2 separate regions of the Homo sapiens genome follow, and region 2 is linked to region 1. The links come from fine-mapping of genetic effects on gene expression. A gene starts in region 1. The other region holds a variant in brackets. All regions are shown on one strand. Distances are between the middles of the regions.

Region 1 (4,394 bases):
CTGTGTCACTGGCTCCTCCACCACAAGTATTCAGACACACACACACACACACACACACACACACACAGAGCACCACAGCATGGATGGAAAAACAAAAAAGCCAGAGCCAGGAGGAAAAAAAGCCAGAGCCAGGAGGTAAGAACCATATGTCTAGTAGGAAGAGGGTTTTGAAGAAAAACGTTTGTCTCTGGAAAAGCAGGTCAAGTATGCACCCAGGCCGCCTTGAGAGTTATGCCTAGGCCGTTTCATTTCAGTGTCCCATCTTGCACAACGGTGGGAGCAGCTGTGGGAGATCACAGGAGATGCAAAGCAACACAAGCAACCTCATCTGTCTCCCCGACGGCCACACCAGAGTTTCCAGGTGGCGGGAGAGAGAGCTCAGTTCTCCCAAAGAGCACACAGCTAACCTGCCATCCAGAACATCACTTCCCATACCAAACCATTCCTTTTTCAAGGCCTGAAGGCAGGCAATTTGAACGTCCTGTAGCTGAGCACACCTCAGAAAACCGATTTTTGATCTAGAACTCGAGTCCTCTGCCAAAGTTCTAAGTTTTCATGAAAACAAAAGAAGAAAAGAAAACCCGCAGGCAGGCACAATCGTTGGCTGCCCGGATCACGAGTTTCCCTTGCTGCCTAGTCTTGTGGAGTTTAGAGGTAACCAACTAGGAAAAGAGAAGTGTCCAAGTGTCAGGAGTAGGAATGAGCCCAATCTCGCCTGTGTGTGTCCCTCCCAACATCCCTTAGAAGAGGCTGGGACACTAAAACTGGTAGTCTGGGGGACCAACAGCAGTCCAGATCCTGGCTGGGGCAAGCCGCCACACCCTCTGCAGCTCACAGCACAAGCCTCGGCTGGGAGGGGCCCAGACACTGTCCCAGCAGGAAAGGGAGAAAGAGGGGAGTTTTCAGAGTCCTGGATTTGAGGAGCTGGAAAGCTGGGAGAAGCGGAATGCAGGAGGGAGCGGGGGACCTGGCTGGGCGTGCAAGAGGAGGGGAGGGGTCGCCCGTGCAGTCAGGACAGCTCGCAACACGTCCCCGCAAAACTCCACATTTTTGTGGTTTAAGATTTAAGTCTAGAGGGAACGCGCTGAGGTTCTCCCCGGCCTGGGTTTCAGATGCCCCTGCTCCTCGCCAAGGGCCGGGGCGCCGCACTGCTGTGGGTCTCCGCTTTCCCTTTCGGGGAAGCTCCCCTTGGCCAAGCCGCGACGTGAGCCCTCCAAGTTCGCCTCCGCTCACCGCCCGGCGCGGCGCCCGCGGCCGGCCACATGCGCCCCATCTGCCGGGGACTTCGCAGGTCCCGGGCTGGCCGCCCGAGGGATGGTCCGCAGGGGCTCAGGGTGTTTTGTTTTGTTTTGTTTTGTTTTGTTTTTTTTAAAAAAAAAGCCTAAGCGGCTCGCCACCTCCTCCTCCCAGCCCGCGCCACCTTCTCTTCACGCCCACGCCGCACCTCCCGGGCACACGCGCCGTGAGGTGCCTCTCCAGCCAGACAATGGGTTCGAGGCTGGTTGGGCAGCCGGCCCTGAGCCCCCATCCCCATCCCGGGACCCCGAGAGACTGAGCGCGGGGGACTGCCAGGGGGGTGAAGAGGAGTGCTGGGGGGCCACAAAGGGGAAAGCGGGAGCCTCCCCCTCGGGAATGGAGGCTCGCTCCCGGCACGGGGTGAAGGGGAGGGGCGGGGGTCAGCTGCGCCGCCCGGCCCGGGGCCCCGGGTCCCCGCGCCCGACCGCCGCCGCGCACTTACCAGCACGATGGCAAATCGCTCCTCCAGTTCACCTGGCTCTGGCATCGGCAGCTTCAAAGGCACGTTGTGCGCCCTGAAATCGGTCTGCTGCGAATCCATGCTCCCTGCGTTGCCCATGTCGGCGGCGCGCCGGGGCCGGGGGCTGCTCCGGGCCCCTAGCGTGCGCGTCGGAAATCAGAACAGCTCCCGGCGGTCGGCTGCCGCCCGCAGGCGCGACCTGCCCGGCTCCCCGCCCTCCGCCGCGCCCAGGCGGGTGTGCGGCGCGCACCGCTCCCTAGCAGCGCTCCAAGCCGAGCCGCCCCCCGGCCTCCCTCATGCTCTCCGCCGCCCCAGCGCGGCCCCGGCCTCTTTTCCTCGGGAGGGGTAGTTGGGGCGCTGGGCGCCTATGTGCATGGTGCTCCGCTGGCACACCGCCCCCTGCCAGAGATCGCGGCCCCCGGCGCGTGGTCCCTCCTACTCGGCCTTCTGCCGGGCCCGCGGCCGCCGCTGACACTTCCAGCCCTAGCCGGCCACGGCTGCGCCTGCCTGGCTAGCACCTGGAGCAGACAAATGCAGCTCCGCGCTCCCCTACACAATGCCACCTCTCGCCCGGCGCCCGGCCCCCGCCCCCGGCCCGGCTCCGCCCACTCGCCCCGCGGACTGCCGGGACGCGTAGTTTCTCTCCAAAGTGTCCGCGCGCAGAAACCACGCCTGCTCTAGAGCGCCAGGCCGGGTTGGGACCATTTGCAGCAAAGGCGATCCGTAGTCTCTGGAGATAGCATATTGTCACTTTTGACCCTCCTCACCCCAACAGTGGAATACTTACATCGTGTATATCATGTTGACACTTGGTAGGCGGGTCTGACCATGACGGAATCGAATCAATGAATGAAGGAATGCATGCCTTCTGATTAAAATTCAGAAAATCGTTGCTGTTTTTAAAAGATCTAGTTCAGTAAGGAACTTCGAAAGCACTGGCAAAGTTCTGTTTCATAAACGGGGGGGTGGGTCCATGGGTGCTTGTTTATCGTTCTTTCTTCCATATATATGTTCTTTGGTGTGATTGAAATGTTTTATAAACAGATGTATAATTTATGGGTATATATAGTCAGACCCTAGGAGCTAGGTAAGGATTCAATTCAATTTAAAAAAAAAACCTGTCAAACACCTATTATGTATGGGATATTGTGTTCCTTGGTGGGAGAAAAAAGAGATTTGCCCTGCGCTGGAATACTTGCCAATCTAGTGAAGGAAAAAATGTACACACCCATATTTCATGTGAGATGGATATAATGATAGAGTGTTCTGGGAGACTTTGGGATGATCTTTGGCTGCAGCTCTCTTATTCCTTCACAGCAGTCTTGAGCAAGGTGTCTTACAGAAAAGATTGGACCTGACTCTGTCCTCTGGGGTGTATTTCAGACTATAACTACCCGTTCTGAAACCTCGGAAATAGAAATAGCCTTATAAGAGACTTTAGCCAACTGCTCATGTGAATGTTAAGGGCATACATCTGGTTGACTTGTGGCTGAACTTCTGCAGTTAGTCCTTTCTTAGTTTAAAGCAGTGTTTCTTAATCCTAGATGTGTATCAGATTCGCTTGGGAAGCTTTTTGTTAAAACTACACACACCTTGGGCTCTGCGTATTATCAGAATCTCCCTAAGCTGAGAGCCGAAGCCTGGGCCGGTGTATTTTCAACAAGCTCCCCAGGTGATTTTGATATGCAGGTAAGGTTGTTATCCTTTTAGTAAATAGCAAGTGTTTCTGGACAAGGTAGTACACCAAGATTCAATCAAGGACATTTCATTCATCTTTATAAACTTCAAGATACTTTAAACATAGTAGACGCCCAAGAACTATTTGTGGAATTGACAAGTGACTTTTTCCAAAAGCATATGACACAAATACACACAAATACATCATGTATGTTCTATTAAACCACTTCTAGTCTTTAAAGAATGGAGACAGTATAAATAAATTCAACTTAAAATTCTGAATAACTGTAACCTGTATTTCTAAAGCAGTGTTGTATCAAAGTTAATAGCAAATGTGTTACTGATCTGAGAGAAAAGCAGGGCGGTTTAGATACACACACACTCCAAACTAATGAAAATGAGAGAGAAAGAAAGCAGTTCGGACCAGGTGAAACATTTCTGACCCACAAATGTATTTATTTCCTTGTAATCTCTAGACATATACTTTGGATCTGATTGACTCACAAAATCAGCCCACCCAGAGGGTTGCCCATCTGGATAAAAAAGGCTGGAATTCTTTTCTGCAGTTGAGAAAGCCTTTTTGATTACATTTATGTCTCCCTGCGGCTATATTTCTGCCAGTAACCAAGACCTTTTTCTCCCCTTACGTCTTATCACATCTAGTCTCTCTCATAAGCTCACACTTCGAGGGAAGCCAAGGAAAAAGTGTGCAAATCTATGAACCAAAAGAACTTTCCTGCCATTTCAATGTTTGGAATCTCTAATATTTGGTTGTTATTTGTGATTATTAAGAGGAGAAATAAACACTCCATAGGCTTGTACAATTTCTATAAGAATCCATCAAAATCTTAGGAAATTCTTTGCGGGGAGACGGCATGGAGGGAAAGGAAAGAAAAGACATTTCTATTACCTTAATTGTAGCACTCTTCCTCCCCACAGAATTAAAATCAAGCAATCATTT
Region 2 (4,394 bases), 260 kb before region 1:
AAACACATGAAAACTGTACCCACCACGAGGAGTCTGACTGCTTCCCAGTATTTAAAGAATTTTCTAATGAGATTGGAGGTAAAAATAATGCATGTGATTTGTTAAAATAGTATATTAGGAAATGTGCCAATTATTAGAAGATCTAGATAACTCAGTGTACCATTATTTTCCCAATGATCACTGAATGTTGTTACAAATTTATAAATTCATTCAAGGTGCAATATAGGCAAATAGATTTTAATGCAACAGTATGGAAAAAGTTCATCGATACGATTTCGGATTCTACTTTGTGACTAACCTTTAAGAAATTACTACTTGTCTAGTGTTTGTATAGTATCAAAGAAGAATGCCCACTATTATCTGAAAATGCTGTTGACATAATTCTATTTCATCTACATATCTGTGTGAGGCTAAATTTTCTTCATCTACTTCAACAAAAACAACAGCAGAAGTGACTAAACGCAGAAGCAGATCTAAGAATGCAGCTATCTTCTACGAGTCAATCTCCCTAAGTGCTGAGATTACAAACGTGAGCCACCATGCCTGGCCTGAAATTTTGTTGTAATTTCTAATATGGAAAATATCAACATATAACTTGCATAAACAAAAGCTCTTTAGGGACCTCAGTGATTTTTAAGAGCATAAAAAGGGCTCCAGGGGCCAAAAGTTGGAAACTACTGGATTACAGAATAGCCTCTATTTCTACAAAGATGATGGATTCTTAAACCTAAAATCTAAAGAAGCAAATAAATGGATAACTAATAGTAAAATTCCTTGCAAGATTGTTTGGGAATCAACCATACCATACAAAGAACTACTAAATGTACCATCTCTGCATAAAAATGAAGCCACATCACACAGAGACCAATAGTGTCTTCATATAGAAAGGAGCCCTCCACCATTTTCCAAGGTAGAAAAAAAAGACAGCCGGGCTCAGTGGCTCATGCCTGTAATTTCAGCACTGCGGGAGGCCGAGGTGGGCGGATCACTTGAGGTCAGGAGTTCAAGACCAGCCTGGCCAATATGGCAAAACCCCATCTCTACTAAAAAAAAAAAAATCACCCAGGCGTTGTGGCACATGCCTATAATCCCAGCCGTTCTGGAGGCAGAGGCGGGAGAATCGCTTAAACCTGAGAGGAGGAGGTTGCAGTGAGCCGAGATGGTGCCACTGCACTCCAGATTGGGCAGCAGAGTGAGACTTGGTCTAAAAAAAAAAAAAAAAAAAGACTTCCTTGCAATTCTTCTGTTTAATAAGGCCAGGTACAATCCCTGGTACTTATCAGGTTGGATGGAAACAGCCCCTAACTGTTCTCTGATTATCTCTGGGATGTACCCACTCTGTCACATTAGACTCATTATAAGGCTAGAAGATGTTCTTTTCCCAAAGCCAGGTGAATGTTAGATTTCAAGCAAGAATATGGGAAAGGGACAGAAAGAGATCTCCTCCGCATGGGAAAAAAAATATATAGAACACACATTCCTCAAAGTTCAGAAATTCATACTGAATGAATCCACCCAAGTAAACAAATTTGTCTGGGACGCCTGACACCATAATATCAAACAATCATGGGCCGGGCATGGTGGCTCATGCCTGTAATCTTAGCACTTTGGGAGGCCAAGGCAGGCAGATCACTTGAGGTCAGGAGTTCGAGACCAGCCTGGCCAACATGGCAAAACCCCGTCTCTACTAAAAATACAAAAATTAGCTGGGCGTGGTGGCGTGTCTGTAGTCCCAACTACTCAGGAGCCTGAGGCATGAGAACTGCCTGAACTCGGGAGGTGGAGGTTGCAGTGAGCCGAGATTGCGCCACTGCACTCCAGCCTAGGTGACAAGAGCAAGACTCTGCCTCAAAAGCAACAACAATCAAATCAATCAATCAATCATGAACAAATACACAAGGAACAAAAAGATCATTATCTTTTACCAATGTGCTAAACATGTTCTTGACACGTTCCACATAGAAAGCACCATTTACTAATTTTACATCTATTCCTGGAAAATAGTTGAAAATGAAATGAAAAATTCAGTGTTGTTCTTGGTGGTGAACCAGTAAATCTGGGATATCACATGTGTTGCTAGTACAGTTATTGGCAGGGAAGGAGCCCTTATTTTCCACTGCCAAAACCAAACTGCCAAAACAACACAGAGCCTAAAGCTCATGTTACCATGACTGGCCATTTCCACTCCCCTGTGACGCAGAGTTTGC[G/A]GGGAACATCTTGTCAGAGAGCTCAACTGCAAGATGAAGGGTGACTGACAGTGACTGTTGGACCATAAGTAGGAACCACTGGGCTATTTTCTTCTAGTGAGTGTGTTTCAGTCAATTGTGAATGAAAACCGAGTCTGACTATATATTCTTGGCAGACTGATACATAGAATTAAAGAGCTGGGCAGTAGCCACATATACCACTGTGTTGAAAGGAATAAAGAATGGCTGTTGAGCTGCAGTGGGCAGAACAGTTTGGGGTAGGACAGGGGAGCTGGGAAACTAAAAGCTTAAATCAAGACTCAAAAGCTCCATCTTTCAAAAGCTACACAAGCCAGGGATGCTTCTTCCACAGACAAGTCCTCAACAGTACCTCGTGCGGTGGTACTAACAGCATGGCCAGCACAGCCAGCTCACTCTCAGTCTAGGGAAACAGCGACGTCCTTAGACACATGGCAGATTTTTGAAATGAAACTTGAGCCAAGGGATTGACGCAGCCACCTTCCAAGTAGTCATAAAAGGGAACTTAGGCCGGAAGTCACAATACTGTCTGCAGTCATAGTGATCTCTTTTAGGATTGTTGCTCTCCTGCCAACTGGCCTCAAACATGTCAGTTTTTGTTCTTGTTTGAAAAATGAAAGCACCTATCATTTTATTATCTAGGTACCTTGTTTTCATATCTGCAGTCAAAGAAGCACTTAATCTTTCTTAGAGGGAACTATTTGAATAGGTACACACAATACATGTTACATACATAGGCATGTGTACACAAAGTTTTATATAGAATCATAAAATTGTAGACTTGGAAGATATATAAAAACCACTTGACTAACTTCTCACCTAAAGCAAAAACTTACATCACAATATACCAGACCCACCAGGAATCCTCTCATCCTCTTGACCACCTTCCCCTTTGTACTGTGCTGGTCTCTTCTGAGCATCCTTCTAGCCCATTCTAACCTTGTCTCTTCACTCTTTTCCTTCTGGACTGGGGTCCCTGTGGGGGAGTTTTCCTCCTTAGTTACTTAGTTACAATCCCCATTTGGCTCTCTCTCGCTCTCTCTCTCTCTCTCTCTCTCTCACACACACACACACACACACACACACACACACACACACACACTCTCTCTCTCTCTCTCTCTCTCCCTAGTCACCTCTGTTTAAACTTGTTCTCTCATTCATTACCTTCATTGCACAGCTAAGAATCTGACCTCGGGCATTACACCCCCACTAAAAAAATAAATTAAAAAAAAAGTTTTATTTTCTTTGCCTGAAAAAAGAAATCCCCAGATTGTATTTGTTGACTATAGTTGGGCTACTTTCCTCTTCATTAAGTGTATATTATTTGAACAGATTCTTATTCTCCTCGTGTCCATTCTCATATTCGGTGGATCACCCTATCTCTTATTGCCTTTTCTTTCATTTTTTGGCTTCATATTCATTGCCATGGCCACAAACTGGGTCCAAGGCTGAGTCATTTGACAACTGAACCACCTGTCTTCCAGACTCCAGCATCTCTCCCCTCTACTGTATTTTCTGCAGAGCTACACAATACTCCTAAAGTTTTATCCAAATTACATAAAAGGCTTTTTGCAGATTTCCACAGAATCAAATGCAATATATATATATAGCATTTTCTAAACTGTAAAGTATTATGTAACTGTGAATTTCTTCCCTTTCTCTTTTTTCCCTTCTATTTGTATCTATCTTCTAGTTGAGGTGTTTGTTTGTTTGTTTGTTTGTTTTAATCACAGGTTTCCAGTCTCTCCACCACTGTTTCCTCAGAACCTCATTCATGCCTGCCTCTTGCCATGTTTTGTTCTGTAACATGGACCCTGGTCAGATATTTTTCCTGGTTAAAGAACAAATATATTCTGACTTATGCTGCCTTTGAGACAGATTTCATGCCAATCTCTCTGCTCCCAGAATTCTCTCCATCAAATCAGGTCTCTTCCCTTCCTGATCACCCTGCTCAGGACCTACCCACTTCTCCCACTGGGCCCTGTACAAACAGTATGGTCTGTTCTGAATTTTACCAGTAATTTTAAACACCCCAATAATCTATCCAATCTCTAACCATTCCCATTAGGTTTGCTTTTCGGTGGAAAATTGAGGACAATATACGAACATGTGTGGAAAGTGCCTGGAATGTGAGACATGTTATGTAAGGCTGTATATGAACTCTGAGTT

Which allele goes with the higher level. Positions count from the first base shown, and alleles are read on the strand shown. Sizes are in standard deviations (SD) of each study's normalised expression.
With allele G in place of A in region 2, the expression in skeletal muscle of the gene that starts at base 2,285 in region 1 is lower (small effect, 0.18 SD a copy in GTEx).

The links. PIP is the estimated chance that this variant, and not a neighbour inherited with it, causes the effect.
Region 2: its variant is the best candidate, but not a certain one, in a credible set for the expression of FMNL2 in skeletal muscle (GTEx, PIP 0.61).

What each region holds. Positions count from the first base shown.
Region 1 is chr2:152,333,065-152,337,458 of GRCh38, reverse strand. It overlaps FMNL2 (formin like 2), which reads right to left and starts at 2,285. Exons shown (of 26, transcript NM_052905.4): 1 at 1,739-2,285. The coding sequence starts at 1,855. RefSeq lists silencers at 1,226-1,325, 1,836-2,485.
Region 2 is chr2:152,592,794-152,597,187 of GRCh38, reverse strand. All of the region lies in intron 9 of FMNL2 (formin like 2), which reads right to left. Among named protein-coding and RNA genes, the nearest start is that of PRPF40A, 120 kb to the left of the region's middle. The variant G/A (reference allele first, on the strand shown) is at 2,208.